Homo sapiens: one gene and its partners. The protein of the gene in region 1 interacts with the protein of each later gene in a pairwise test. Each region holds a gene or a part of one and is shown in the gene's direction. Other genes may lie near its edges. The genes, in order: TMPRSS2, ANKRD46, TMEM229B, PTCH1, SEC22A, TMEM218 and STX7.

The links.
Region 2: the proteins of TMPRSS2 (region 1) and ANKRD46 interact in binary tests that used the Homo sapiens proteins (3 or more experiments, as listed by UniProt).
Region 3: the proteins of TMPRSS2 (region 1) and TMEM229B interact in binary tests that used the Homo sapiens proteins (3 or more experiments, as listed by UniProt).
Region 4: the proteins of TMPRSS2 (region 1) and PTCH1 interact in binary tests that used the Homo sapiens proteins (3 or more experiments, as listed by UniProt).
Region 5: the proteins of TMPRSS2 (region 1) and SEC22A interact in binary tests that used the Homo sapiens proteins (3 or more experiments, as listed by UniProt).
Region 6: the proteins of TMPRSS2 (region 1) and TMEM218 interact in binary tests that used the Homo sapiens proteins (3 or more experiments, as listed by UniProt).
Region 7: the proteins of TMPRSS2 (region 1) and STX7 interact in binary tests that used the Homo sapiens proteins (3 or more experiments, as listed by UniProt).

What each region holds. Positions count from the first base shown.
Region 1 is NC_000021.9:41,463,106-41,467,514, reverse strand, and holds the end of TMPRSS2 (transmembrane protease serine 2), read left to right. Parts: intron 1-1,361; coding exon 1,362-1,373; coding exon of another isoform or gene 1,374-1,395; 3' UTR 1,396-3,210; downstream 3,211-4,409. UniProt on the Homo sapiens protein: Plasma membrane-anchored serine protease that cleaves at arginine residues. Participates in proteolytic cascades of relevance for the normal physiologic function of the prostate.
Region 2 is NC_000008.11:100,528,509-100,533,240, reverse strand, and holds part of ANKRD46 (ankyrin repeat domain-containing protein 46), read left to right. Parts: 5' UTR 1-32; intron 33-780; exon of another isoform or gene 781-885; intron 886-3,380; 5' UTR 3,381-3,407; coding exon 3,408-3,718; intron 3,719-4,732.
Region 3 is NC_000014.9:67,474,764-67,479,495, reverse strand, and holds part of TMEM229B (transmembrane protein 229B), read left to right. Parts: intron 1-4,732.
Region 4 is NC_000009.12:95,478,266-95,481,898, reverse strand, and holds part of PTCH1 (protein patched homolog 1), read left to right. Parts: exon of another isoform or gene 1-72; intron 73-1,310; coding exon 1,311-1,509; intron 1,510-1,808; coding exon 1,809-1,930; intron 1,931-2,751; coding exon 2,752-2,899; intron 2,900-3,633.
Region 5 is NC_000003.12:123,239,182-123,243,913, forward strand, and holds part of SEC22A (vesicle-trafficking protein SEC22a), read left to right. Parts: intron 1-4,732. UniProt on the Homo sapiens protein: May be involved in vesicle transport between the ER and the Golgi complex.
Region 6 is NC_000011.10:125,094,214-125,098,945, reverse strand, and holds the end of TMEM218 (transmembrane protein 218), read left to right. Parts: intron 1-1,205; coding exon 1,206-1,340; 3' UTR 1,341-4,557; downstream 4,558-4,732. UniProt on the Homo sapiens protein: May be involved in ciliary biogenesis or function.
Region 7 is NC_000006.12:132,446,491-132,451,222, reverse strand, and holds part of STX7 (syntaxin-7), read left to right. Parts: 3' UTR 1-4,732. UniProt on the Homo sapiens protein: May be involved in protein trafficking from the plasma membrane to the early endosome (EE) as well as in homotypic fusion of endocytic organelles. Mediates the endocytic trafficking from early endosomes to late endosomes and lysosomes.

The sequences.
Region 1 (4,409 bases):
GAAAAGCGCTGGGGCTCAGCTTGTGTGAAATTCCTTGGTGCTCTGCCAACCACACTTCGTTCTGGCTCAGCTGACTCAGCTGTTCCACCCAGGCCACCTCACATCAAACTTTTTTTTTTTTTTTTTGAGATGGAGTCTCACTGTGTCGCCCAGGCTGGAGTGCAGTGGCACAATCTCGACTCACTGCAACCTTTGCCTCCTGGGTTCAAGTGATTCTCCTGCCTCAGCCTCCCAAGTAGCTGGGACTACAGGCATGCGCCACCACGCCCAGCTACTTTTTGTATTTTTAGTAGAGATGGGGTTTCTCCATGTTGGCCAGGCTGGTCTCGAAGCCCTGACCTCAGGTGATTCACCCACCTCAGCCTCCCACAGTGCTGGGATTACAAGTGTGAACCACGGTGCCCGGCCTCACATGAAACTTTTGATTTATAGAGAGCAGAGGGAAGAGCCGGCTGTGCCCATCCTTTTCTGGGGCCATCGAGTGGCTCCTGGGCAGCCCCCAAGGTTAGGAAGGGCAGGAGCAGCCAGGGTTCTCTGATGCCCCAGACTCAAGCACGAGGGAAGGTCTCAGGGGTTCCATGTGAGCCTCATGGATGTCTCTGCTTAGCAGAGCCCTGGCTTTGGGCATTGTCCAGATAGGGGGTGAGAACCAGATCTTCTCATCTCCAGGACCTCAGACGTATAGTTTTCTCAGATTTCTGTGCTTTCTGGGGCTGGGCTACTAGTGGAAGAAAGCAGTCTATTCTGTCTTCTCCCAAATCTCCCAGATGCCCAGTCTGTTGAAGGAGGAGCAGAACCAGGGGGCCTTTCCCGCTGAGGCCCGACCTGTGTCTCCTTCAAATGACACGCGGGACTCAGGGCCTTCCCATGACCATGGGGCCCAGGGGGCGTCACCTGGCCCAGGGCCCAGTGCTAGAAACAGATGACCCCAGGAGGAGGAGGCAGGGCAGGAGGGAAGCTGGCAGGGCTGGGATGGTCAGCCAGGCTGAGGGGCGGACTCGCACCAGGATGGAGCTAGGAAATGATCCAGGTGTGTTTGGCGGCTGCAGGTGGGTCCGCATGGCTGTGCAGGGAGGGAAGGGCTGCGTGGCAGGAGAGCAGCCGGGGGAGGCCCAGACTCTGCTGAAGAGATGCCTGTTGTGCCGGCCTCCACATCCGCTGCCCGCTCCTTCCGGAGCTCCTGCCCCGCCATGCTCAGCCTGACTCTGACCAACACGTTGGAGAGAAGAATGATCCCTTTGTGCTATTAAGCTTGCTTATTTGGTTTCTAAGTGCTTCATGCGAACCTAGAGGAAAAAATTATTTTCCACCTTTGTTTGTCTTAAGAAAATAACACACTTTTTTTTTTCCTATTTGAACAGGCAGACGGCTAATCCACATGGTCTTCGTCCTTGACGTCGTTTTACAAGAAAACAATGGGGCTGGTTTTGCTTCCCCGTGCATGATTTACTCTTAGAGATGATTCAGAGGTCACTTCATTTTTATTAAACAGTGAACTTGTCTGGCTTTGGCACTCTCTGCCATTCTGTGCAGGCTGCAGTGGCTCCCCTGCCCAGCCTGCTCTCCCTAACCCCTTGTCCGCAAGGGGTGATGGCCGGCTGGTTGTGGGCACTGGCGGTCAAGTGTGGAGGAGAGGGGTGGAGGCTGCCCCATTGAGATCTTCCTGCTGAGTCCTTTCCAGGGGCCAATTTTGGATGAGCATGGAGCTGTCACCTCTCAGCTGCTGGATGACTTGAGATGAAAAAGGAGAGACATGGAAAGGGAGACAGCCAGGTGGCACCTGCAGCGGCTGCCCTCTGGGGCCACTTGGTAGTGTCCCCAGCCTACCTCTCCACAAGGGGATTTTGCTGATGGGTTCTTAGAGCCTTAGCAGCCCTGGATGGTGGCCAGAAATAAAGGGACCAGCCCTTCATGGGTGGTGACGTGGTAGTCACTTGTAAGGGGAACAGAAACATTTTTGTTCTTATGGGGTGAGAATATAGACAGTGCCCTTGGTGCGAGGGAAGCAATTGAAAAGGAACTTGCCCTGAGCACTCCTGGTGCAGGTCTCCACCTGCACATTGGGTGGGGCTCCTGGGAGGGAGACTCAGCCTTCCTCCTCATCCTCCCTGACCCTGCTCCTAGCACCCTGGAGAGTGCACATGCCCCTTGGTCCTGGCAGGGCGCCAAGTCTGGCACCATGTTGGCCTCTTCAGGCCTGCTAGTCACTGGAAATTGAGGTCCATGGGGGAAATCAAGGATGCTCAGTTTAAGGTACACTGTTTCCATGTTATGTTTCTACACATTGCTACCTCAGTGCTCCTGGAAACTTAGCTTTTGATGTCTCCAAGTAGTCCACCTTCATTTAACTCTTTGAAACTGTATCATCTTTGCCAAGTAAGAGTGGTGGCCTATTTCAGCTGCTTTGACAAAATGACTGGCTCCTGACTTAACGTTCTATAAATGAATGTGCTGAAGCAAAGTGCCCATGGTGGCGGCGAAGAAGAGAAAGATGTGTTTTGTTTTGGACTCTCTGTGGTCCCTTCCAATGCTGTGGGTTTCCAACCAGGGGAAGGGTCCCTTTTGCATTGCCAAGTGCCATAACCATGAGCACTACTCTACCATGGTTCTGCCTCCTGGCCAAGCAGGCTGGTTTGCAAGAATGAAATGAATGATTCTACAGCTAGGACTTAACCTTGAAATGGAAAGTCATGCAATCCCATTTGCAGGATCTGTCTGTGCACATGCCTCTGTAGAGAGCAGCATTCCCAGGGACCTTGGAAACAGTTGGCACTGTAAGGTGCTTGCTCCCCAAGACACATCCTAAAAGGTGTTGTAATGGTGAAAACGTCTTCCTTCTTTATTGCCCCTTCTTATTTATGTGAACAACTGTTTGTCTTTTTTTGTATCTTTTTTAAACTGTAAAGTTCAATTGTGAAAATGAATATCATGCAAATAAATTATGCAATTTTTTTTTCAAAGTAACTACTGCATCTTTGAAGTTCTGCCTGGTGAGTAGGACCAGCCTCCATTTCCTTATAAGGGGGTGATGTTGAGGCTGCTGGTCAGAGGACCAAAGGTGAGGCAAGGCCAGACTTGGTGCTCCTGTGGTTGGTGCCCTCAGTTCCTGCAGCCTGTCCTGTTGGAGAGGTCCCTCAAATGACTCCTTCTTATTATTCTATTAGTCTGTTTCCATGCTCCTAATAAAGACATACCCAAGACTGCAATTTACAAAAGAAAGAAGTTTATTGGATTTACAATTCCACATGGCTGGGGAGGCCTCACAATCATGGCAGAAAGCAAGGAAGAGCAAATCACATCTTACATGGATGGCAGCAGGCAGGGAGAGAGTTTGTGCACAGAAACTCCCATTTTTTAAACCATCAGATCTTGTGAGACCCATTCACTATCACAAAAACAGCACAGGAAAGACCCACCCCCATGATTCAATTATCTCCTATCAGGTCCCTCCCACAACACATGGGAATTATGGGAGCTACAAGATGAGATTTGGGTGGGGACACAGAGCCAAACCATATCATTCTGCCCCTGCACCCCCCAAATCTCGTATCTTTACATTTCAAAACCAATCAGGTCTTCCCAACAGTCCCCCAAAATCTTAACTCATTTCAGCATTAAGTCAAAAGTCTACAGTCCAAAGTCTCATCCAACACAAGGCAAGTTGCTTCCACCTATGAGCCTGTGAAATCAAGAGCAAGTTAATTACTTCCTAGATACAACGGGGGTACAGGCATTGGGTGAATACAGCCATTCCAAATGGGAGAAATTGGCCAAAATAAAGGGGCTGCAGGCCCCTTAAAAGTCCAAAATCCAGCAGGGCAGTCAAATCTTAAAGCACCAAAATGACCTCCTTTGACTCCATCTGTCATATCCAGGTCACACTGATGCAAGAGGTGGGTTCCCATGGTCTGGGGCAGCTCCACCTCTGTGACTTCGCAAGGTATAGCTTCCTTCCTGGCTGCATCATGGGCTGGTGTTGAGGGTCTGCAGCTTTTCCAGGCACATGGTGCAAGCTGTTGGTGGATCTACCATTCTGGGGTCTGGAGAATGGTGGCCCTCTTCTCACAGCTCCACTAGGCAGTGCCCCAGTAGGGACTGTGTAGGGGCTCCAACCCCACATTTCCCTTCTGCACTGCCCTAGCAGAGGTTCTCCATAAGGGCCCCACCCTGCAGCAAACTTCTGCCTGGGCATCTATGCGTTTCCATACATCTTCTGAAATCTAGGCAGAAGTTCCCAAATCTCAATCCTTGACTTCTGTGCACTGGCAGGCTCAACATCACATGGAAGCTGCCAAGGCTTAAGGCTTGCAACCTCTGAAGCCACAGCCCAAGCTCTATTTTGGCCCCTTTCAGCCATGGCTGGAGTGGCTAGGATGCAGGGCATCAAGTCTCTAGGCTGCATACAGCAC
Region 2 (4,732 bases), on another chromosome or scaffold:
ACTGAACGAAAAGATCTAATCTTAAGGCTTACGTGAGTATTTACTACTGTGGACTTCCTCACAAGATGTGAAACCTTCAGTGAACTGCTTTAGGACAGATTCAGTTCTGTGATCAAGATGAAAAATAACTATCATTGGGCTTATTAAATGTGGGATTAAGTTTAGTAGTTGCTCAGGGACACAGAGAAACTGACAAAATACACACTTGTTCTCACCTGAAAAATAGACACAGAGACTTGTATTTCTTGCTGAGCCAACACTCAGAAGTATCCTAGTCTGCAAACCACAAGAATTCTTACTGTGTCTGAATCAAAAACACCAACTAGATTTTTTAAATTATCTATTTTTAAAAATTTAACCAAAACACATTACCTTTTGAAAAGCACTTGATATGTGGCATTTCATTTTGAAAAAGGTTTATGATAGCTTTTCCATTTTTATGATTCAATACTGTGCAAGCTTGTCCAACCTGCAGCCCAGAACAGCTTTGAATGTAGCCCAACACAAATTCATAAACTTTTAAAAAACATTCTGAGATTTTTTTTGCAATTTTTTAAAGCTTATCAGCTATCATTATGTATTTTATGTGTAGCCCAAGACAATTCTTCTTCCATTGTGACCCAGGGAAGCCGAAATGTTGGACACCCTTGCTGTAAGGGAAAATATTTAGATTACCCTCGCAAAAGAATTCTTGACTATTTTATTGAGTAAATTCTTCTCATTGAGTTTTTCTGTTTGTTGGTTTGGTTTGGTTTGGTTTGGTTTGTTTTTTTGAGACAGGCCTCACTTTGATGCCCAGGCTGGAGTGCTGTGGCTCAATCACAGCTCATCGCAACCTCGACCTCCCGGGCTCAAGTGATCCTCTCACCTCAGCGTCCCGAACAGGTGGGACGAAAGGCGCGCGCCACCATGCCTGGCTAATTTTAAAATATTTTATAGAGACAGGGTCTCTCGCTATGTTGCCCAGGCTAGTTTCGAACTCCTGGGCTTCAAGCTATCCTCCCATTTTGGCCTTCCAAAGTACTGGGATTACAGGTGTGAGCCACTGTGTCCAGCCAGATTTTTAAAAAGTCATCATATGTATCATAATCTGAAGTTTATTTTGATTTTAATCTCTGTAGTTTTTAATCATAAACTTTTTTTCGTATTTGAAATTATTCTTAACAGCCCCTTTTCACCCTTCATTTCATATCCAGTGAGTCATTAAGTTGTGCTAATTCTGTCTTCTCTGTTCCTCTCCAGTGCGTCCCCTTCTGCCTGCCACTGCCTTAGGTCAGGTTTTCATTTCTTGCCTAGATAGCTGCAATGACCTAATGATTGATCTCCCTGCCTCCAGTCTTTGTCTCTACAATCCAGTGCCTCCATATTGCCATCCAAGTCATCTTTCTGAAAGACTAATAAGACTGTGCCATTTCTTTGACTTAAAATTCTTCAGTGGGCTGGACTCATTGAAATAGTAGTCCCAGCTATTTAGGAGGCTGATGTGGGAGGATTGCTTGAACCCAGGAGTTTGAGGCTGCAGTGAGCCATGATTGTACCACCGCACTCCAGCCTGGGTGACAGAGCAAGAACCTGTCTCAATTTAAAACAAAAAAAATCCTTCAGTGGCTCCTCACTGAAATTCAGGTATAAAAAAGCCTAACTGTGGAGTTGTTAGGAAGATTAAATTAAATTCATTAAAAGCTCCTAGTTGGTACCTGGCTCAGAACAAGTCTCAGTGTATGTTAATGCCCACTCTTTCCACAGAGAGCCCATGGTAGCAGCAGAGCCCTTGTGTAAGGCAGCCCCAGATTTTGGGACAATGGCTCTGCTGAGAAGCCAAGTTGAAAGGAATAGGGGCAGCAATCTCACCAAACTCAGCAGCCAGGCTTCCCTGAATCCCCTTGAGGTTAGGCACAAGAATAGATGGGTCTAGCGTCCAGTTCCATCAGTGTTTCAGAAAGAGACTTTACCTGATCAGCTGTATAAGCCAAGTCCATATGTGACTAAGCTTTTGTAACCTAAGAATAAAAAAGCCATCTCTAGAAAAGCATTGGTCTCTGCCTTTCTGTTTTCTTGTTTGTTTTCTCGTCAATTTCCTAGCGAAGTTTCTTTTGACAGGCTTTAACTCTTTCTTAAATGAACCTAGGGGAAGAGAGAGAGACCTAGTTGTATGCAGTTTGGTAGAGCAAAATGTCCTGAGAGTTCAGGTGCACCAGGCAGATGCTGAACTCTCACCTGAGTTCAGGTGCGCCAGTGGGGCCAGGAAACATCTGTGAAAGAGATGTGGGCAAACTGGTGAGCTGGATGAGTCCAAGAGATGAAATTCACATCAGACCTAGTTGGGATTGCTGCTTTGTCCTGACTTGGTATTCCCAGACAGCCCTACTTTTTTTTCCCCTCATCTCTCAGTCTTTGGACGGTGGGAATTTGGCACAGTCACATATTGAGATAACCACAGAGCACAGCAGAATAAGATCAATAGTGGAAAAAGCATAATCTGAATTGATTTCATGCTCTGATTTTTAAATTCAGTTTGTTACATTCCTTAGCCTTTCTCTTAAAATTTGTGCTATAGGCCAGGCGCGGTGGCTCACGCCTGTAGTCCCAGCACTTTTTGCAAGGCCAAGGCAGGCGGATCATGAGGTCAGGAGTTCAAGACCAGCCTGGCCAACATGGTGAAACCCCGTCTCTACTAAAAATACAAAAAATTAGCTGAGCATGGTGGCAGACACCTGTAATTCCAGCTACTTGGGAGGCTGAGGCAGGAGAATCGCTTGAACTCGGGAGATGGAGGTTGCAGTGAGCCAAGACCGCGCCACTGCACTCCAGCCTGGGCAATAGAGCGAGACACCATCTCAAAAAAAAAAAATTGTGCTATAAACATAACACTCTACAGGTCTTTGTTGAGTATAAGTTCTTTTCATGCAAGTAGTTTTAGTTACCATGTAGAATATCTCAAATACAAGAAGAAGCAAATATATCAAAGAGAATTAGTTTGTATTAAATAAGAATGTCTACCAGCAGTAGCATTTATATATGGGTAGTTCTTTGATGTTTAAACACCATGTTATCTATGTGTTCTGACAATGTAATACTTAAATCTAAGCTATTATGTCTTGCTTAACTTTAAAAATATCTCTTAATCTTTTTACATGGTGAAAAGCAAAATAGAGCTTTACAGTAATTGAATTGGAATTTTAATCCAGCAGATGTGAAGAAAATAAAATGTTTTAATGGAAAATAAAATACAATTGATAACTTTGTTGTTGTTTCTGTTTGGTCATTTATTTATTAGAGGCAGGAGGCCAAAAAGGATGAGAAATATTGCTTTTCTAAATGACTCCTTTGTCTTGATTTCATTTGTCTTCATGGAATCTCACTCACCTATTTCATTACAGGCGTGTTCCATCCACCACATCAGAACAATGTCGTATGTTTTTGTAAATGATTCTTCTCAGACTAACGTGCCCTTGCTGCAAGCCTGTATTGATGGGGACTTTAATTATTCCAAGCGGCTTTTGGAAAGTGGCTTTGACCCAAATATTCGTGACAGCAGGGGCAGAACAGGCCTTCACCTTGCAGCAGCTCGAGGGAATGTAGACATCTGCCAGTTACTGCATAAATTCGGTGCCGATCTTCTGGCCACAGATTATCAAGGAAACACAGCTCTTCACCTCTGTGGCCATGTGGATACTATCCAATTTTTGGTTTCCAATGGACTCAAAATTGATATTTGGTAAGTTCTCTGTTGTTTTAGAAGTCTAGTCATTTCTTCCCATTAATCTCTCAACTGATAATCTTATCTTGGGTCTGTTGGTTTTGTTTCCTCATTAATCAGTTGAAATAAGTTCAGAAAGCATTGAAGACAGTGTAATCCTGTTAGGCAAGTGAGGGAATGAGGGGCTGACTTCTAGATTTTTGCTAAAGCAGCATATTTTTTTCTATGAAAATAGTAGGTAGTTTCTGCTACTAATTATGTAGTGTTACAACAAGGGAAGAAGAAGAAAAGAACATTTGTTGAAAATCTATGAGCTAGACTGTGTTTACTTGTTAGCTCATTTAGTCCTCAGAATGAAGAGCTCTCACAATAGGTGTTTTCATTTTACAGATTAGATAGTGAAGACAAAAAAGGATTGGACAAAGTTCACACAGTTTATAGAGGATTTGAAAAGGTCACAGCTTATAAGGGACAGAGCTGGAATTTGAACCTAGTTCCGCTGACTCTAACGCTTGTGTGCCTTCTGTCATGTAACGCACCATGTGAGCTTCATAATCTCCCGGGAGTCCAGGATCCTTTTTAGACTGAACAATTTGAGGAAGTCATGGGGCTTTTTGTTTGTTTTAGTGATACTCTGCTTTTTGAGTGGGAACGATGTCAAGTCACCTGTAAAACTGAGCTTGACCTTTAAATTACAGTTACACACTGCCCTAATTTATTGATGCCATAATGCCCCTAAATCTGAATAAGACAGTAAATGCTTTTGTTTCTGCAGGACAAAATGGGGTAGGAATTGACTGCAGGATTTAATGTGATTGGGGTTCTAACCTATTATTAGCGCTAAATAGCTGCGTGAACCGAAGCAGCTTATTTGACATTTTTTTCTTAGACTTTTTTAAAAAAAGTACTTGTCTCATAAAATGTAAATATCAAATAAGAATGAATCTAGAACTAGATTTATCCACTTTTTTGACTATATGTTCTCTTTTTTCTTTTCCCTGGAAGTAAAAAAAAAAAAAAAAAGAAAAACAA
Region 3 (4,732 bases), on another chromosome or scaffold:
TCTACCCACCTCGGCCTCCCAAAGTACTGGGATTACAGGCATGAGCTACTGCACCCAGCTTCCACAAGCATTTTTTTTTTTTTTTGAGACAGAGTCTTGCTCTGTAGCCCAGGCTGGAGTGCAGTGGTACGATCTCGCTCACTGCTACCTCCACCTCCTGGGTCCCGGTTCAAGCAATTCTTCTGCCTCAGCCTCCCGAGTAGCTGGGATTACAGGCACACGCCACCACGCCCAGCTAATTTTTGTACTTTTAGTAGAGACAGGGTTTCACCATGTTGGCCAGGCTGGTCTTGAACTCCTGACCTCATGATCCACCCACCTCAGCCTCCCAAAGTGCTGGGTTTACAGGGTGAGCCACCACGTCCAGCCTCCATAAGCATTTTTAAGATGAAATTTTAGTTTTATAAAAGTTATACATGCTTGTTAGGAAAAAAAAGTATGCAGAAAAATATAAAGAAAAAAAGCACATATGATATCACCATCCAGAGATGATTGTTGTTTAATTTTTTTGTATATGTGCACATATGCATGCCTTTGCAGAATCGGAGTTAGGTTGAATATTCAGTTTTGAATCCTGCTTTTTTCTCTTACCACTATCTTAAACAAGCATTCCTCAGGAGGCTGCTGGTGCTGGCGTTCAGATGAATCCAGTGAAGCAGAGTGCTCACTATTACCACAGAGAAGGGAGGGTGCAGAAGTGGGAAGACAACTCTGGAGTCAGGGTGCTTAGGAAAGTCCTCACAGAGGAGGAGCTGGGTCTTAAAGGAGGGTTCACCGGCCCTGGGTGGGGCCCAGGTAGCAAAAACAGCAAGGTAGAGATCTGGAGGACAGGATTGGAGGCAGGGACGAGTTGTGAAGGGCTTTGCCAGCCGTCCCCAGGGGTTTGAGCTTTATTTACTCTGTAGATGTTGAAGATCCACTCATGGGCTTCAAGTGGTGAGAAACATCGGATTTGCATTTTAGAAAGGTTGCGTTTTTTCTACACACTCTTTCATCCTGTGATGAGTGAATTAGAAGGAAGAAGGCAAAGCTGGGAGACCTTTGGAGTCATCCAGGTGAGACATGATGAGGGCGTGAACCAGAGCAGTGGCAGCAATGAGAAGAGTAATGAAGAGGAGGGGATGGATCCCAAAGATATTTAAGAGGTGGTAAGGGTGGGAGTTAGTAGCTGACTTGGTGGCTTTCCCTTGGCCAGTGGGATGATGGTGGGCATGGCTTAGCCAGGGTCTTGAACCACACTTGTACAGCTAGCCTTGCTCAGCTTTGTGCCTCTGCCCTTGCCATGAGAAGAATATGCCCAGGCAAGTCCACTGGGCCCCGGAGGAGGATGAGAGACAGGTGGAGTGGAGCTACGCTGCCCCAGCCGTCTGCCAACCACAGACATGTGAGCTGTAATAGTAGACGGTAGTTGTTTTAGGCCAGGGTTTTTGAGATGATTTGTTATATGGCGATTGCTAACTAAGAAATGTCTTTATTCTTCTCTTGAATGCTTACTATGTGCTGGGCTTTGTGCCAGGCACTGGGAATACTATGCTGAACCAGGCAGGCAAGGCCCTCACTCTCAGGAACTCATGTTAGGGTGGGGATGTGGCAGAGGAAGCCAGACAGACTTTGAGACCGCTGGTTCTAACTGGGTGCATGGTGGTGCCATTAATTGGGGTGGGGGTCTTAGGAGAGAAACAGGTTTTGGGGAAAAGATAATGGGTTTGATTTTATTTATTTATTTTTTAGAGACAGAGTCTCACTGCATTGTCTAGGCTAGTCTTGAATTCAAGAGTTCTGGGCTCGAGCGATCCTTCTGCCTCTGCCTCCCAAAGTGCTAGGATTACAGGCATAAGCCACCACACCTGCCCATGGGTTTGATTTAGGAAAGGAGTTTGGGATGCCTGTGGGACATTAGGGGGAGCTGTCTAGGGAAGGGCAGGAGCTATAGGTGTAGCACACAGGAAAGAGGTCTGGCCGGGGACAGAAATTCTCAATATAATATTGAAAATAACCTGTAGCAAAGGGAGTGAGACAGAGTAAGTGCTGTAGAAATTCAGAAGAGGAAGAGAAGCCTTGGGACCTGGGGGAATGAAAGAGATTTTGTTCTGAAGGTAACCTGCAAGCTGGTTTATACTCATGGAAGTGAGAGGAGAAAGGCACGCCTAACAGAATGAATAGGACCTGCAAAGGCATGGAGATGAAAGACAGGAAGAGCTGGATTGTGAGGAAAAGGCTGAAGATGTCAATCGGGGCAAGGTCATGAAGAATCTTGAATGGCAGGCCAAGGATGCTGTTGTGTTTCATTAGGAAATAAGGAGATATCGAACATTTTTTTTTTTTTTTTGAGATGGAGTTTCGCTCTTGTTGTCCAGGCTGGAGTGCAATGGTGCGATCGCGACTCACTGCAACCTCCACCTCCCAGGTTCAAGCGGTTCTCCTGTCTCAGCCTCCTAAGTAGCTGGGATTATAGGCGCATGCCACCACATTTCAGCTGAAGCAGGCCTGGTCACATTAATACCTACCCATCCATTGTTTTTTTGTATTTTTAGTAGAGACAGGGTTTCATCATTTTGGTCAGGCTGGTCTTGAACTCCTGACCTCAGGTGATCTGCCCATCTCCGCCTCCCAAAGTGCTGGGATTACAGGCGTGAGCCACTGTGCCCAGCCACTATCGAGCATTTTTGAGCAGGGGAGAGACATTTGGTACGTATGTCTAAGAGATGGGCAGTCATGTGCAGGGGATGAGTTCTGCAGTAGAAAGCAAGAGATATTGGTTCTAATCTCAGCTCTTCCATTTACTGGCCCTGGGATATGGGGTAAATAATGTCCCCTCTCTGAGCTCTGTCTCACTGCAAAAAAATGGGAGTAAAATTTTCTGACCTTCACATGAATCTTTTTTATTTTATTTATAAATATATTTTTTGGAGAGGAAGTCTTGCTCTGTTGCCCAGGCTGGAGTGCAGTGGCATGATCTTGGCTCACTGCAACCTCCGCCTCCTGGGTTCAAGCAATTTTTCTGCCTCAGCCTCCCAAGTAGCTGAGACTACAGGTGCATGCCACCACACCCAGCTAATTTTTGTATTTTTAGTAGAGACAGGGTTTCACCATGTCGGCCAGGTTGTTCTCAAACTCCTGACCTCAGGTGATCCACCCGCCTCAGCCTCTCACAGTTCTGGGATTACAGGTGTGAGCCACTGCGCCCAGCCTGAATTTTAATTATGTAAGAACCATGACAAAATGCGAACGAAGTGCTTGGAAGACCACAGAGCAATGCACAAGGCTGGGTAGGTATTAATGTGACCAGGCCTGCTTCAGCTGAAATGTGAGGCTGGAATTCCCAGACAGGTGTGCATACTACAGATGCCATTTCCTTAACCTCTGTCTTTTCTCCCACCTTGGAGAGGGGATCGACAGAGATGTGAAGCCATTAGCAGCTGGCAGAGCTGGGATTTATGTTCTCAAGCCCTACCTTCCCATTCTTGATGCAGTCCCACACCTCCCTCCACATGAACAGGACATGTCATTTAGAGAGGGCCTGCCCAGGACGGGCCTGCGTCAAGGCCACAAAGCACTGGCCTGTGCAACAGTCACTATCCTCAAGGAGTTCACATGCTAGTTGGATCATGAGAGCACATACCTCAAAAAGCCATTGGGGTGGCACCTGATAATGGGCCAGGTAAGTGGTGCAGACAGTCGCTGGTGGAGGGTGAGGAGAAAGTAGAGAGAAGCAGCATGGGAGCCGGGCGTTGAAGACTGGTGGGGTTTAAAAGAGGGGAGGGGAAAGGAGCCAGAAGGACTGGGGAGGACTCTTTCCTGTGTCAATCCATTGGTTTCCCCTCAGCACTGAAACCAAACACCAAAACCCCATTTAATGGAGCAAAGACAAATGTGACCACAATGAGAGAACCACCTCACACCCATTAGGATGGCCATTATAAAAACAAAACAGAAAATAACAAGTGTTTGGGGTGGATGTGGAGAAATTGGAACCCTTGTACATTGCTGATGGGGAATGTAAAATGGTGTGGCCACTGTGGAAAACAGCACAGTGGTTCCTCAGAAAGTTAACCATAGAATTACCATATGATCCAGTATTTCCACTTCTGCATATGTACTTGAAAGAGTTGAGAGCAGGGACTCAGACAGACCTTTGTACACCCGTGTTCATAGCAGCCTTATTTTGAGTAGCCAAAAGGTAGAAGCAACCCAGGTGTCCATCAATGGATGAATGGATAAACAAAATATGGTGATATATACAATGGAATATGATTCCGCCTTTAAAAGGAAGGAAATTCTGGCTGGGCACAGTGGCTCACGCCTGTAATCCTAGCACTTTGGGAGGCCAAGGCGGGCGGATCACCTGAGCTCAGGGGCTTGTGACCAGCTTGGGCAACATGGTGAAACCTCGTCTCTACTAAAATTCAAAAATTAGCCGGGCATGATGGTGTGTGCCTGTAGTCCCAGCTACTCAGGAGTCTGAGACAGGAGAATCGCTTGAACCCAGGAGGCGGAGGTTGCAGTGAGCCAAGATTGCGCCACTGCACTCCAGCCTGGACGACAGAGCGAGACTCCGTCACAAAAAAAAAAAAAAAAAAAGAAGGAAATTCTGACATGTGCTGCAACATGGATGAACCTTAAAGACATTAGGCTAAGTGAAAGCTAAGCCAGTTATGCTAAGCCAGTCACAAAAGGACAGTGTTTGTATGATTCCACTTATATGAGGCACCCAGAGTAGTCAAATTCATAG
Region 4 (3,633 bases), on another chromosome or scaffold:
TGTTTCTAATGTTGCTTATCATTGTTTGTTCCATTTCAGTTTTGAACAAGAAATAAAAACATTGAAATTCCATGTGCATTTTTTGAGTGAATAGTCGGGGGAGAGGGGATTTCAGCAGAATGTTTTTTCTCTTTTCAAAAAACAATTCTGTAGGCGTCATTAAATTTCATTCACTTTTACCAACCTATTTATATGCAAATAAAATGCAAATTATTGCAGAGTACGTGTGATTTTTTAACTCTTTAAAATGTTCGTAGTTTCGAAGACGAGGCATTTAGACACTTATTTTTTAAGGAGAGACTTTATTAGTGAGTGGGTTCACATCAGAATGAAATATTTTGAGTTTGAGATCTTCCTGTGAAGTAAAAAGCTAACCTTTCTTTAGATCACACTAATGGCATTTAAGGGGGAAATCCACTATCTGTGAAGGCCACAGTAGGGAATGTTTCACCGTTTAGCAGTTGGATATTATATATACCGCATCATTTAGAGAATAATTGTTAATCAGCATAGACATTTTCAGTTAATTATGCAAGAGTGAGAGCTTGGGTTATTGTTTCTGTCCTGGCTTGCACATATCTGCAAAAGCAATTTGCAGTGGCCATCCCCTGACCTTCAGTGTACAGTTTTAGATGGGAAATAAGGGGTTTTGTGTTTTCTGGTTGGGAGATTCCGAATAATGACTTCAGCCTGGTTAAGCAGCTACAGTGTGGTTTGAACCACATAACAGGCAGCCAAAAGCCTTTCTGGTCTGTCAACAGCACAGATTCAAAAGTGAGTGTGGGGGGAAGTGGCTGTGATGGTGGTGATGGCAGAGGCTGCAGGGGGCTTGCCCATTCCATTGCCAGGCTGTCAGAGAGCGCTCATAAGTATGGGATTGTTAAAGGTAGCAGAGATCAAATATTTTGATTGATGACATTTACAAAGTATTTATTTGGCTGCCAAGTGCTAATTTGATATTGTGACGCCCTCTTTTTTAAAAAAAAAAAAATTTAATTTTGGATCTGTCTTTTTGGCTAATTTTGTATGTAGATATTAAATATACAATATCAGCAATTAAAGATTATTCAGTGCCCTCATTAACTTATGAGTCCTCTCTCTGCTTAGCATCTTCAGTCATGAATTATTTTCCTGACCTAAGTTTTTATGCAGATATGCTGGAAAGGAGCATTTGTTTTGATGCCAGAGTCCCAGAACTGCAGCATTGCCAGGAACCTCCTACAAGGTGGATGCAGTGGGCGCAGCCGTGTTACTTTACGATGCGTTTAGAAGGCTCTTTTCATGGTCTCGTCTCCTAATTTCTTTTGCAGAGGTAAACCTCCTTTGCGGTGGACAAACTTCGACCCTTTGGAATTCCTGGAAGAGTTAAAGAAAATAAACTATCAAGTGGACAGCTGGGAGGAAATGCTGAATAAGGCTGAGGTTGGTCATGGTTACATGGACCGCCCCTGCCTCAATCCGGCCGATCCAGACTGCCCCGCCACAGCCCCCAACAAAAATTCAACCAAAGTGAGTACCAGCAGTGAGCGCTCTCAGAAGGGTGGAGAGCAAAACACTTTTTTGTGTCCATTCATCGTTCACTTTATTATTTTCATTTTTAACATTTCATTCTCCATGATCGTCTTTGTCTATGGAACTAAGTTTATTTATAGAGCTAAATTTTGCTGTAAGATTTGCCATACACCTCCCATTAGCCTTGCTATTAATGTTCTCTCTGAAACACACAAGCCCTTAATGCACTGGATTTTAACAAGGCATGTGACCTGCCTACTAATTCCCATAATTATGTGGCTGTCTTTTTATTTTAGCCTCTTGATATGGCCCTTGTTTTGAATGGTGGATGTCATGGCTTATCCAGAAAGTATATGCACTGGCAGGAGGAGTTGATTGTGGGTGGCACAGTCAAGAACAGCACTGGAAAACTCGTCAGGTAAGCCAGCTCCCGAGGACAATCTATGCCCTGTAGTCTTCTTCCTTTCCTCAAAAGCCACTTCCCTCCTGACATCGGCAAGTGTATTTGTATTAATACTTAAACCGTTATCCTCGCTAGCCAGGTGGCGTCATAGAATATTAAGAAATAGTAGCAGACTGCAACAGCTTGAAAAAGCACCTTGTGGGGAATTTTTCAAGAATGGATTTGTAGTTTTCATCAGGACCATAGTTCCTGACTATAGGGTTTAAGGAGATCTGCCCATTAGGTAGAGAATGGGAGCAGGTGTAAAGTAGGCCGGGACACACTGGTCAGAGAGAGTTGGTGGTGCGAGCTGCACAGTGTCATAGACTGTTAGCAAAAGATGGAGAGCCAGCGGCTCAATAAGAATTATCCTTTGTGCACTTGTGGACTCTGGTCAGTCAGGTGTCTGGCGTTTCGTGTAAGATTTCTCCCTTGGGAACGCCACCGTCTGGGATTTCTGCACAGCAAGTATGCGTCACTGAGCCCGGTGTATCTGTTCAAGCTATCTGCTCCTCTCCCCTTCCTGTTTCATGGAATGGAAACTGTGAAAGGAAATTGCCTATTAATTTAATTTTGGGGTATATCTGTAAAAGGTTTGTAAGGTTATACCTTTAATATGGTACATCAATCTATTAAATAAAATAACCATCCTGGTCCCATTTTAATGGAAACATGTGCTCACAGAGAAGGAAAAGAATTGCAGCCAGTGAGTTGGGGGAGCTGGCTGGGGATTTGAGGCAGTGGAAACTGCTTCCTGGGAATACTGATGATGTGCCTTCCCTTGGACTGTGCTGCAGCGCCCATGCCCTGCAGACCATGTTCCAGTTAATGACTCCCAAGCAAATGTACGAGCACTTCAAGGGGTACGAGTATGTCTCACACATCAACTGGAACGAGGACAAAGCGGCAGCCATCCTGGAGGCCTGGCAGAGGACATATGTGGAGGTAAACCCACCTTCGAATCGGCGTGCAGACTCGCTGGTTATGCAATTCTTCATTTTCACCATTATTTAAAACATTTCTTTCCATTCGCTTTATTTTCAAAACATTGCAATTCTGGGAACTTGATGGGATGAAAACTTTTTTCCTCTTCTTTGATATTGAAAATCCTGGGATAATATCTAAAAGACTAGTTCTAATTGGGGTGCCCTGAGACATGTTTAGTAACCAGTTGTGAATTCCAGAACTAAAGCACATAACAGTGTTTAAAAAAACACTTGGTTAGCAAAGGTGTCTGGAAAACATTAGCAAGGCATAGAATCTGTTCACAGCTGCAGGCCCCTTGGTCAGGTCATGTGACAGGAGCTGGCCTTTGTTTCCCAAGCAGTGACCTCTACTGAGCTGCATGTGACCTTTTAAAAGTGGCCAGCAAATGAACAGGGGGAGGAGGGCCATAAGAATGAGTTGTTTTGGATTAGTGGGGAGCCGATGGGACCGCAAGTCAATTGTGAAGTTAACGGAGAAGAGACGAGCAGTCTCAGCCCTGGAGTAAATACAGCACTCAGAGTGAACTCCAGCGACACCAGCCCTCAGCAGCACCCACTGCCACTGATTAGCCATGGCCCTTGTCCTAAAACAGGGTTCTTTAATGTTAGCCCAACTTCAGCTTCTCTCCCTGCCCTGGAATCACGTAGAACTTTTTTAAAAAATGCATCAGAAAAAAAGAAGGGCTGCGCTGT
Region 5 (4,732 bases), on another chromosome or scaffold:
AGTTTGTTATACTCACTGATCCCTAAAGGGAGCACACAAGGATGTACCAATGTGGGTCAGGAGGCAGAGGGAGCAGGAGGAAAATGTGGGCAAAAACTTTTATTTTTTTTCCACTGTTTTTTATTTTATTATTATTTAAGTTTTAGGGTACATGTGCACAATGTGCAGGTTAGTTACGTATATATACATGTGCTATGCTGGTGTGCTGCACCCATTAACTCGTCATTTAGCATTAGGTATATCTCCTAATGCTATCCCTCCCCCCTCCACCCACCCCACAACAGTCCCCAGAGTGTGATGTTCCCCTTCCTGTGTCCATGTGTCCATGTGTTCTCATTCTAACTGGTGTGAGATGGTATCTCATTGTGGTTTTGATTTGCATTTCTCTGATGGCCAGTGATGGTGAGCATTTTTTCATGTGTTTTTTGGCTGCATAAATGTCTTCTTTTGAGAAGTGTATGTTCATATCCTTCGCCCACTTTTTGATGGGGTTGTTTGTTTTTTTCTTGTAAATTTGGTTGAGTTCATTGTAGATTCTGGATATTAGCCCTTTGTCAGATGAGTAGGTTGCGAAAATTTTCTCCCATTTTGTAGGTTGCCTGTTCACTCTGATGGTAGTGTCTTTTGCTGTGCAGAAGCTCTTTAGTTTAATTAGATCCCATTTGTCAATTTTGGCTTTTGCTGCCATTGCATGCAAGAACTTTTATTGTGGTTTTGGTGGTAAGGAATGGGTGAGGCAGGGTAAGGAGGTTTTAAGATTGGCTAGTTTGAATAATTTCAATGGACTCTGGGGCATAGGTTCTATCTCTGGTTGTCTGACATGTGGCCCTGGGATGATTGGGATAGGGAAATAATGGCCCTGGCTGTGAGAGCCTTGTAGAGGAGTTGGTTGGTAGTGTGAGTCTGGATTGATTGGAATGCGTATGAAAGGTGGACTCAGACAAGTTGTTTGCCATCACTAGGAATTAGCTATCCCTGGGAGAGGCAGTTCTTCCATGGTCAGCAAGGCCCAAGAGGTCAAAGCATCAAAAATACAGAATAAAAAGACATGATTACTAAACACCCTTATCACAATATAGGACATTTCCATCTCCCCCGAAAAGTTTCTTTGTGTCCCTTTTCAGTCAATTTCCACCATCCTCTAGACAACGACTGTTTTTATTTTTTTCCACTTGAACTTTGTTTTGTTCCAGAACTTTATATAAAAGAAGACTACATTGTGTGACTATTGTGTTCAGCTTCTTTTGCACAGCATGATGTCATACATACATGTTGCCTGTCTCAGTAATTTGTTCCTTTTTATTCCTGAGCGGTATTCCATTGTATGAATGTACCACAATTTGTTTATTTATTCTCTTGCTGATGGACGTAAACTTGTTTCAGTTTTTGTTATTGCACATAAAGCTACGATGAACATTCATCCTTTTGTTGACATATATTTTCATTTCCCTTGAGTAAATATTAGGAGTGGAATTGATAGGTCAAAAGGTTGCCTGTTTAAGAAACTGCCAGTTTTCTGAAGTAGTTGTAAGATTTTACTTTCCCAACAAGCAATTTGTGAGCATTTTGATTACTCAACATCTTCACCGACATTTAGTGTTGTTAGTCTTTTTACTTTTATGTTGTGCTTTAAAAAAAAAACTTCACAAAACCCTAAATTTAGGGTTTAAACTGATAGAAACACTTCTGTCAGTTTCTTTGACACTTGTATATTTTTCATCTATTTTATCATTTTCTAGAAAATTTGTCAGTTGCCTGAAAATGCTGCTCTGTTTTGGCTGGTGCCCACAAGCCAAATAGATTTACTAATCTCTCTTTCTTACACACACACACACACACACACACACACACACACACACACATCCCCTTCATAATCCAACAGGTATTTATCATTTTTTTTCTCTAAAGTATTATGCTAAATTTTGTGGAGGCATTTTTTAGAAATACAGTAAACACATTAACTGTACTCAGAATGAGAAAGGGAAATACAATCCAATAAGTAAAACACAAAGTAGAATGTGATACATGCTCCAAAAGAGGTAAGAAGGAAGACTCAGGTCTTGGAGCCTTGAAGGATATGCATGATTTTTACAGGTGGTGATGATAAAGAAGGGCCTCACTGATGAAAAGAATAGTGTGTTTTTGTGCCAGACTGTTAGTCTCATTCAGTCACACTTCAGTAATAAATTAGGCTCATTTAGATGGAACTGACTTGAAATTTCTCTCTTATCTTCCACAGTCTGTTTCCCTAGGCATTGTGGGCATCTTTGAGATTTCGAATGGTACCATCTCTTTGAATCGTCATAAGGACTATTCTGGGACTTTGCTTCATCAATTATTTTTCCTTTTTCTTGATTCTTCTATTTCATCTTCACTGAATTATTTCATTCCACCTATGTATGTATTCAAGTCTTCCTCCCTCCCTCCAACACTGTAAGAGAAAAAAGAATTATTTTCTCAATCCTATTATCTCTGTTAAGCTTTCATCCTGTTTTTCTCTCCTTTAACTTCAGTAGTATTCACTTAATGCTTCCACCTCTTAACATCGCCAGTTGTTCAACCTCTTGCAATCTGAATTTGATAAGGAAAATGTGGTTCATATACACAATGGAGTACTGTTCATCCATGAAAAAGATGAGATCCAGTCATTCGCAACAGCATGGAGGGAACTGGAGATCATTAAGTAAAATAAGCCAGGCACAGAAAGACAAACATTGCATGTTCTCACTTATTTGTGAGATCTAAAAAGCCCTCAACCACTTTTCTGGAAAAAAAAAAAAAAATTTTAAGGAGAATCCTAGCATCTCCTGTTCAATAAGTCTAATACTTTTTACTTTAAGGTCAGATTTTTTTTGGCCTATCTATAGGCACTGTTAGCCATATCTTTCTTCTTGATGGTCTCTCCTTCCTAGGTTTCACTTGATTCTCCTGCATCTGCCTTCCCTGACTCTTCTTCCATCCCTTACTGACAGTGTTTACCAAGGATTTCCCTTGGCCTGCTTCTTTCTTTGACGCTCATTTAAACCTTTCCCTTCAGTTGCAGACCTCGTCTGCTTCTCCCAGCTATTCCATTCTTCAGTTGCTTGTTAAACACGGCCCACCATCACCTCAAATATGATGTTAAAATGTCCCCATTTTTTATCAAACTTAAGTTTCTTCCTGTGGATCTGTTGCTCAGTACTCTCATCTTTCCGATCACCTAGAGGTAAAACCTCAACATTTCTTTGAATTTTTTTCCCCCTTTTGTTTGCCACATCTAATTAGTTGCCAAGTCTAATAATTTTAACCTCCATGACATCTTACTTCTTTTTCCCCATTTCTTTTTTTTTTTTAATTTTAGCTTTATTCTTTAATGAACTCCCAAGCACTCAGATTCCCATTTCTACTGTGACTATTCTGATTCAGGCCCTGATTTCAGTCAGTCTTTTGCAGTGACTCTCCCACAAACTTCCTAATGTAGAACTGTAGAAAGAGCATGGGCTCTGCAGTCAGATAGACCTAAGTGCTAATTGTGAAGATGGCCCTTCTGGCTGTCTGACTTATAGAAAATAATTTAATCTTAATTGACAGATGAGAAAGTTTAGGCACAGAAAAGTTAGTCATTCCAGTTCAGTCACAGAGAAGTTAGTCATTTCTACCTCATGAAGTATGCCATTCTGAAGGGTAAATGAGACAATGGGTGCTTAGTGAGAAGGTACTCAGAAAAATATTATTTCTCCCTCCCTTACTTTTGATCTCTTTACAACCCATTAATAGATTAATCTTCTTTAAGTATAACCTTCATCATATGAGAATCTTGTTCTTCAGTGGTTCCCCATTGTCTAATTTTCCATAATTCTTAGCCTAGAATTGTATACTATCAATTTGTGTCCACCTCCCTTTCTGACCTTATTTCTCCCCACTTGTCACAAACATCGCTTTGAGCCAAACCAAACCACTAGCAATGCCCTATAGCAGAATGGCTGAGAACATGAATTCCAGAATCATCTAAATCCCAGTTCACGTACTTACTTTGTGCCCATGAGCAAATTATTTAATGTCCCTAAACCTTTCCTATTCTGGGAGGGGTGGGGAGGGGGCGGGGTGGGGCAGAAAACCAGGATAATTATAGTGCCTACTGCATTGGGTTGTTGGAAGGATACAGTGAGACCAAGTATATAAAGCACTTGGTGCCTGGCGTGTTGAGAGCAGTCACTGTTGGTAGAAGTAGTAGTTGTTGATGCTGTTGTTACTCGTTTCTCCCATTTCCATCTCCATCACATTCACATTCTTTTCTCTGCGTGGAATGCATTTCTTCCCCTTTGTACCTGACTACATTTTATCTATCTTCAAAGCTCTTTCCTGGTTCTAGACCACCCTCCCCCTACTTTATCTTTCCACTTCATCATTCCTTGCCTCTTTTAGCTTAGAATGCTTATTACTTTCATATACTTATCTGTTTTATCTCTTTTATAAAAGACTAGAAGTGCCTTGAGGGCAGAATATGTAATTCAATTTTTGTATCTTCGAAAGCATAGCATCTTACACAGAACCATGCCAGAAAGTATTTACTGAATAAATATATTAATTTACTGTAACCAATAGCTCTTTGGTTCCTTTGGTTCTAAGGGGTTTATTCTTACTTCTTTAGGAACTTTTGCAGAGTCTCCATAAACCATTGGTACATTTTCAGAAACATTTAATTTTGTTATCAACATGCCATCCTTGGGTTCAAGAAGACTAAAGAAAAGAC
Region 6 (4,732 bases), on another chromosome or scaffold:
TTTCCTTATCCTTTCCAGCTTCTAGAGGCTGCTCGTATTCCTTGGCTGACAGCCCCCTTCCTCCATCTTCAGAGCCAGTGACATCACACCTCACTGATGCTTCCATCCTCACCTCTCTTGCTCTGACCCTCTCTCCCACCTCCCTATTCAACTTAGAAGGATCCTGTGATTAGATTGGGTCCACCTGGATTGGATAATCCAGATTAATACCCCTTGTTTTAAGGGCAGCTGATTGGCAATCTTAATTCTCCTTTAACATATAATCTAACATATTCACAATTTCTGGGGATTAGGATGTGGATATCTTTGGGCCATTATTCTGTCTGCCACAATTGCCTTTCAGCTGTTTTGGATTCTCCTAGGTACTGGGATTTCAAAGTTTCTGTGAAGTCAGTCAGCCACTTGGTTGGTGGTGTTGCTCCATTAGGTCTATAGATTAAATTGCTTTTTCCTGCCCAAATTTAAGCACCACCATTTGGATCTGGGGAGAGTGGAGCTCTGGAAGGGGTCAGTGGACAAGTGGGTAGAGCCAACACCAATTATAGGGTTTTGTCAGCAAAGACCAACATCTTTGGGGCCTCAAGTGTAAGGCCAGGCAGCCCACTGTCTGCTTTGGGGCAAGTTACCTATCCTTTTAGTGTTTTAGTATCTCAGGTAAATGGTCATTTTCCCTGCCCCGTGGCATGGGACTCTTCCGCTGATAGCTTTAAAGAGTCACCTTTCATTTTGAAAATGAACCCTCCTGAAATGGCAATGGATTGATGATTTTGGGGGTTGGGTCTTAGATACATGGGAGTTTATTATACTATTGCATTTTTATGTATGTTTAAAATTCTCCGTAATAAAATGTATTTTAGCAACAACAAAAATGAGCCTTTCTAGGACCATGCAAAAGCTTCTCATTAACTCTTTCAGGTAACAGATTTCAGAATATAAAAGAATTCATCCAGGGACTTCAAAGTGTTTACCAACATCCTAAATTGAGCCATTTGTTCCCTGTCCCTCATTAATCCCTTCTTGTGTCTCCTGCTCAGGGAGTTGAGGAAAAGATTCTTTTTTCTCATGTACAGAGGAGACTCAGGGCAGGATGTTACTGGAAGTTATACACATGAACTAACTCTTGGCCCACTCATCATGGAGTTCAGGTTAACCCAGCCAGGGTGTCTAACTGGTAGTAATTTCATTTTGATGTTTTCTTTCTCCAGATTGTGGATGACTTTTTCATTGGCCGCTATGTCCTGCTGGCTTTCCTTAGTGCCATCTTCCTTGGAGGCCTCTTCTTGGTTTTAATCCATTATGTTCTGGAGCCGATCTATGCCAAACCACTGCACTCCTACTGACCACTCTTCAGGAAAACGAAAACCTGTTCTCTCCTTCATTGTGATGACATTGATGAGCAGGAAGGCACTATTCAGAGCCTTGTTTTGACAGCCCTCATGCCTTAAGGTTAGAGGAGTATCTGTCCATCACTAAGACAAATCTCTGGAGTCCTGGCTTCCAGAAACAGGATTGCCAAATTGTCCCTGTGGGGCTAGATTCTTACCAGCTTAAGAAGGATATTGCTATCTTCTTAGTACCCGTACCTTAGGATTTCCAACTGTTTTGAAAGGGAAATAGTAACAGTGATCTGCTTAGAGTGGATTTTCACTCAAGTCCTTAGTAAGTGGATTTTGGGGAAAAAAGCACCTGGGCTTCTGGTTCTTTTTGATAATATATAAAATTATTCATTATGAGGTTGCAGTTGTTTGCAAAGGAGAGGCACTCAAATTTGAAAGGTTATTTTAATGTGATAATTTGGAAGACTTACTCAGATGTTGGTCATTGACCACTCTGTGCATATATTTCTGCAGAGCTCTGTGAAGGCAATGAGTGTCACTTCCCTCTGCTCTAATAAAGCAATAAATAATAGCTAAAGGGCTGACTTTCACTTCGAACTCTTGGCCACGGCTTTTTAATCAAGTTCTTTAGGTTTCCTTGGGATTAGAGGAAAGGTATGGAAATATTGTTTTTTGTTTTTTGTCTTGCCATGTATCTGTAGGTTTTTTTCTTCCATGATGTGGTGGGCTGTGTGTGCCTTATTTAATTACCATGAGTCCATTTTGGGGTGTCTTCACTTTTCATCTTTGTAGCCCTTTCTCCAAAGCTAGTGAGGAAGGTATATTCTCAACATCAGATATAACTCTATACCTGTCTGATCTCCCAGACCAAATGAAATTTGCATTAAATGGAGGGGCCCTGGTCAGGTTCCACTTTGGAAGTCTGATCCTGACTCCCTAGAGCCATTTGAAAAAGAATCTTCTGGCTTAAAATTAAGAACCAAGAAAACAAGTTGGAAAGAGATCACTGATGGAGTATGTGCTCTATGCCAATAGCACACTAATTCCTTTGAGGTTTAATTTATTTAATTTTTACAACGGTCTCATTTTTATCATCCCCACTTTAAAGTAGAAAAAATGGAAGCTTAAAGAGATCAGCTGACTTGCCCAACCTTCACCTAACAGCCAGTGTGCAAACCCAGGTGTGGTAGGCCCCAGGGCTTGTCTCAGAGAGAAAACACACTAGGGTTTGTGGAACTCTGATTGAGAGCTTCAGGTAGGTTAAGGCCACACTGTTCCTTCACTTTCTCTCCTCAATTCTGTTTTCAGGGTAGAGAAGTTACCCAGTCCTGCCACCCCACAGGCAACTAAGCTCTAAATTCCAAGAAGAGAGAACAGGTAACCACTGAGAGTCATGGGCTGGTGAGGGCCAGGTATAGTTATCCCTACATTGAACCATTTCCTTTATCTTACTTAGTTTGGAAAAACTTTGCAGATAAGGCTTTGTACAGAAAACTTCAAAGGAAATAGTTTCCTAATCTGGCCTAGGGCACACAGGTAAGAAAAGAAGAAACATCCTCTAAGCAGATTGAGGGAGAGAAAAAAGAATGCATAAGTCTTGAGGGAATTGAGACAAGCTGGGGGCCTCATGCTATTGTGAGTCTCCCTGCAGCCCAAGTGGAAGCTTGGCTCCTAACAAGCACAAGCTGCCAATTGTTACCTTCTTCTGAGAGCCTTGCTAAAAAAGTAACTCTGGGAAAACTCTTATAGGTTCCTGACCATGAATCCATCTTTTTTATTCCCCCCAAAAGTTATTCAACTATTAGATCAATGGATAATAACTATGAGGTTTTGGGTGACTATTTAGATGGAGGAAAGTGTATTAAGGTTGGAAACTAAATTCTATCCTTAATACTACTGTTTTCTAATTTTTGTTTTTTTGCCTGATGTAAATGAAAGGCATATATGTTAAAGATTGGCTTTAGGAAAAAAAAAAAAATACCCTGTGCAAAGTTTATTTCAGCTTGACTTGACCTACAGTCTACAGACCTGGAGTCTATAATTACCAGCTGTGGTGAAATGAATGATAGATTTCTTTCTACCTGCATACTCAATGCAGTTATGCAAAAAAAGCCCCGCAGGGTTGGGATAAGACGTAGAAGGCTGAGAGGGCTCAAAATGGATTTCACTGAGAGTTTGGCATGGGATAACCCTATAGTCAATGTCTGTTATGGTACCCTGTATGCTCATGGCCTTCTTGGAGACAGGGCTCAGAGGTCATTCCTTAAATACAGACAGAAGTCATCTTAGTGTTCAGAACCATTCTGTGATCAGTGGCCTTAGAACATGTTCCCTCTACTGTTCCCTACCCAGAGGGGATCCTGTGGCAGACTGGTGATCCCCACTGTTTAGAAGGTGGAGAGGGAGAGTAAATCTGGGTTTCTATATAAGAAAATAGGTTATTTCGTGGCGTCTTAAAATTGTATCCTGACAAAAGCTGAATTAGGAGGATACCACCCTATCCCCACAATGGAGATCACAATGGGTAATTTGTTAAGTTCCTTAAATTTTTCACTGATAAAAATGGAAGTAAAGCTACCATTCTTTGTGTACAATGTAAATTTAATGTAAAACTGCATCAGAATTACCATACCAATGTCCAGGGACTAGGGAGTACATAGCCATTCATTCTCGAATCCTGCCATTCATTCAGCATATATTGTGTGCCCGTAGGGTGTAAAGCACTAGTCCTGGTGGAGTAAGCCCATGGAAGAACTAGGCTGTAAGGTGTCTAGACTGTCTTCCTCACTGCTTCCTGGAAGGAGGGCATCCAATTTATTTTTAAATGTTTTTATTCTAACATAAAGCAATCCATTTTTTGTTCTGTTATTTAACAGAAACTTTAGTATCAACTCTATTTCATGGTTGTTGCAGTTGAAGTGTTTCTGGTTTATTTTTTGCTCAATGTGTAAAGAAACCTGCTGTGATTATTTTACAGATGAGAAACAGGCAGAGAGGACAAGGGATTTAAAAAGTTTCACAGTTAATTAGAAGTGGGGCTCCAACTTGACATCAGGATTCCTGACATCTCATTTCTCAAATAGTTGAAAGATCACTTTTGACTTTCAAGTAACTCCTTATTTTTACATTGGTTAATACTGTTTCTTAGCTGTTTGTACCTGACATTTTCTTAACACATATCCAAAAAGGTAAAAGTTTCATTAAAGGATTCTAATGATCATTTTAGTATGAATAACAAACATTCAATCATAATTCCTTTGCTTAAACCTTTAAGTATCTGGCTGTTACATAGAAATGAATTTCCAGATGTGAGAATCAGAACTGTATGGAAACGAATCTAGAAAAGTGTTGATTATCCTCATAGAAGCATAAGAACTCAGGATTGGAAGAGATTT
Region 7 (4,732 bases), on another chromosome or scaffold:
TGGGAAGCTGAGGCAGGAGAATCACTTGAACCCGTAGGCGGAGATTACAGTGAGCTGAGATCGCACCACTGTACTCCAGTCTGAGCAACAGAACGAGACTCCTTGTCAAAAAAAAAAAAAAGGAAAGAAAATTTCATGGTTCCCCATGAGAAATCCAGTTTTTTAAATTGTTTTGGTCCCTATAGATAGGTGTCATTTGTCTTTTTTCTTTTTCTTTTTTTCCTTTGTGTTTAGTTTTTAGTTGTTTAACCATGATGTATCTTGTAGATTTGGGGGGTTTATTATATTTGAGGTCTTCTCACCATCTATATGTTTATGTCTTTTGCCAATTTTGGGGAGTTTTCAGCTGTCATTTTTTTCAAGAACTTTTTCAGTCTTCCTTCTTTCTTCTTTCTTTTGAGACTCTGATGACACAAATGTTAGATTTATTGTAGTTCCGTAAGTCCCTGAGGTTCTGTTCATCTTTGTTCTGCCTGTTTTCTTCTGTTGTTCAGACTGTGTAATTTCTATCATTTTATCTTCAGATTTATTCATTCTTTCTGCAGTAGCTTCCATTCTGCTATTGAGCCTATCAATTAAGTGTTTCATATTGATTCCTGCATTTTTCAATTTTAAAATTTCTGGCCCTTTACCGAAAATGTTGGTTGACCCCTGGAGTATAAACCTATACTATAGAAGAGAGTATCAATTTTTTTTTTTTTGAGAGGATCAATTTAAACAAAAGTTGGTCTCTTTAAATAAATAAAGTACACATAACTTGGTGAAACCGATTTGGAAAAAAACAGAAGACATAAAAAATTTAGGAATGAAAGTACAGATAAATAACCAAACATAGATTTTAAAATAATAAGACACTATAAACAACTTTATGCCAATATATCACAAAACAGAAAATGAATAATTTATATGAAAAATGCAAATTACCAAAATCAACTACGAAGTAGATGATTTCTGCTTCCTGCCATATGGTTGACTAGGTATACTCAAGGATCCTCCTGCTAAAATACAGTTAGTTCTTGGATAAAATACAACACACATAATATTAGTTCATTTCCTGGCTCATTAGAAAGAAAGATAATCACTAAAGGCTATTACCAATGAGAGTGGGCTAAAATTAAAGTAGTTGAGAAACAGGAAAACTGTGCCTCTGAGACTTAAGCCATGGACTCCAGGCAAAGTAAAGAAAGTGAACCTAAGATTCCTTCATAAAACCAGGAATGCTTTAAAGCATTAAAGTAGTCCTAAGTCAGTGGACTCTGGTGGTTACTCTAAGAAGTGGATGAAAATCCCCTCCGAAGGAAAGCCTCCCTAATTAATGCTTCTAGATTAATCAAACATGCAAGGAAACACACCATTTGCATTGAGAAACAGTAGATTTAGATATTCAAGGAATTCAGGTATTGCAATTAGCAGAAGTAGAATAACAGTTATATGTTTAAATAATGTATGAATTAAAACGAACATGAAATGAGAGATGTGTTAAAAGGCAGATATTAAAAAGAACCAAAGACAACTTAGGTATGAAATTTAATTATTGAAATATATAACATAATGAATGGTTTAAGAGCAGATTCACCACAACTAAAGGAATTGTTGACTATCAAGTTTTAACTGAGGAAACAACATATTGCAGCAAAAACAGGTAAAGGGATAGAAAATAAGAATTAGAGATTATGAGACCTGAAGGATAGAATGGGAAGGTTTAATATGTGCTGATTGGAGTCTAAGAAGTAAAAAATAGAAAAAAATTGAGGTAATTGCTGACAAATTTCCAGAGCTAAGAAAAGCCTGGGACCTGGTATGGTGGCTTATGCCTGTAATCACAGCATTTTGGGAGGCCAAAGCAGAAGGATCACTTGAAGCCAGGAGTTTGAGATCAACCTGGGAAATGAAGCAAGAGCCCCCACTCCATCTCTACAAAAAAAATTAAGAATTAGCCAGATGTGGTGACATGAACCAGTAGTCCCAGCTACTTGGGAGGCTCAAGTGGGAGGATCACTTGAGCCCAAGAGTTTAAGACCAGCCTGAGCAACATGGTGAAACTCCATCTGTACAAAAAATACAAAAATTAGCCAGGCATGGTGGCACACACCTGTGGTCCCAGCTACTCAAGAGGCTGAGGAGGGAGGATCACACGAGCCCAGGAGTTCAAGGCTGCAGTGAGCTATGATGGTGCCACTGTACCCTGTCTAAAAAAAAAAAAAGTGGATCCACATATACAAGAAGCAAAATGTATATCAACCAGGAAAAGGAAGCCAATGTATATTCATTATACTCAAACTTCAGAACAATAAAGGCAAAGATATCTTAAAAGCAGCCAGAATAACTTATCCACTTTTAAAGGAATAACGAATTGACAGACCTTTTTTTTTTTTTTTTTTTTTTGAGACAGAGTCTTGCTCTGTCACCCATGATGGAGTGCAGTGGTGTGATTTCTGCTCACTGCAACCTCCATTTCCCGGGTTCAATTGATTCTCCTGCCTCAGCCTCCCGAGTAGCTGGGAGTACAGGTGTGCGCCACCACAACCTGGCTAATTTTTTTGTATTTTTAGTAAAGACGTGATTTTGCCATGTTGGCCAGGCTGTTCTCGAACTCCTGACTTCAGGTGATCTACCTGCCTTGGCCTCCCAAAATGCTGGGATTAGAGGCATGAGCCACTGCACCTGGCCAACAGTAGACTTTTCAGTGCCAAAACTGGAAGGCAAAAGACAGTGGAATAACATCATTAAGGTACTGAGAGAATAACTCAATAGAATGAGTGCCCAGTGAAATTATCTTTCAAAATCAAGGGTATATTAAAAACACTTTTTTCTCAAAATGAGAATTTACAAACAAGGGACTTTCACTTAAGAATAAAGATGAATTTTAGAGTACAGCAAAATGACTAGGAGGAAAGTCTGAGATGCAAGAAGGTATGGTGAGCTAAAAAATCAGTAATCATGGGAAATGTAAATAAATACTGTCTATATTAAGAAGTATTTACTCTGTGGAGTAAAAAAGAGCGTAATTAAAATACTAGCAACATTTTACATAACTCAGGAAATGTATATGTGGGGAAAGTGTCCGGGAGCACTTAGAAGTTAGTGTGAGTGCTCCAAGATCCTGATACTCTTTAGGATGGAAGTTAAGATAATGAATGACTTTAGATGTTGTTAATCTAAGTACTTAACAGAAAATTTTCAGATAACCTTTAAAGAATAGCAATACAATATAACTTTCAAACCAGTAGAGAGGAAACATTCTGAAATAAGGGAAAAACACTTTAGAAATCCCAACTTTGATAGACCACAAAAATGCAAGAAGGAAGAAAAAGCATAGAAAAAGCAAAGAAATGGCATAGTATATAATAAATGGTTACAATAAATATAAATTGCCTATCTCACCAGATTAATAAAAAAAAAAGTCTACCTTGTTCAATATATACAGTTTACAAAAGACAGTACAAGGACAGAGAAAGACAAAAAGTAGAATTAGGGAAAATAAAACAAGCAAATATACCTGGTTAGGATAGCTGTATCAGTATTAGCCTTACAAATATTAAAGTGAAAAGCATTAATAAGGATAAGGAGACTCTCAAAAATAATAAAAATTTCAACTGAAGTAGGTATAACAGTTCTAAACAAAGTTATTAAAGTAAAAATGTAGAGGGCAAAACGGAAAAAAAAACTATTATGTTGTATTTGAAGTCACTCAATTTTTAGCTCGAGCAGCAAAAAAGTAAATAGAACAACATGGTAACCAAAGTTGATTCAATTAATACATAAAGGATCATGTTCCCCCAATTTAGAGCATGTGCATATTTCTTAAGCATGTATAAAAGATTTAGAAGGAAAATGATAAAGGAATGTTTTGGGGACCTCTGATAGGGAAAGATTTCTTAGAAAATCTGCAAAAGATATTAACCATAATCTACATAAAGTCAACTGTTTTATTTCAAGCCTCTCTGGAAATAGTTTTGTTGACTGATAAGAAACGCTCTATGTCAGTCAGCTAATCAATGTCTAGTGAGTCTAACTCTTTCCACTACACAGTAAGTTCCATCTTAGGGTGTTTTACTTAAAAGCCTGGTGTCAAATGTTACACGCACAAAAACTTATTAGTATCTTTTTAACCAATGTATCTTAGGAGATACGGAATTATTTCTAACACACTGGTTGTATTTACTAATTTTCCGCTGAGCCATCATAAAAATAGAAGTCACATCGTCACTATTTCTTGCTTGTCCAACCCAGTGTCTATGGTACCCTCGGCAGTTATTCATGGCTCCTAGGCCTTCTTTTAGAGTACTGTCTCTCTTCTATTGGCTTTGGATGGAATTGACTCCATCCTAACTGCAGAAATGATAGGCACTGCTTTACATAAATCAGTCAGCCTAATAGCATTCTTTTTGCCTCAGAGATTGGTTCAGAGATGGGGAAAAACCCACTCTAGGCAATCAGCTTGTGACTTACTTTCCTCCAATTGGTGATCCAATTAGGGCAGTGTGTGGAATGTGCTGCTCTGTATGTGCAGCCAGATGCTCATGTTCATAAAAAACATTTTAATACTGTGATGGAAGATACAGCTTCGAGACAAAGACACAAGCTTGGGTAGAGTCATTCATTCATTTAGTAAGCATTTGCTGAGTGCTTAATAAATGCTGGGCCCTGAGAAAAAGCAAAATCTTATTCAGCACATTCTGACATTGGGGACAATGCGATAGTTGATAGCTTCCACACTTAATTAGAAACA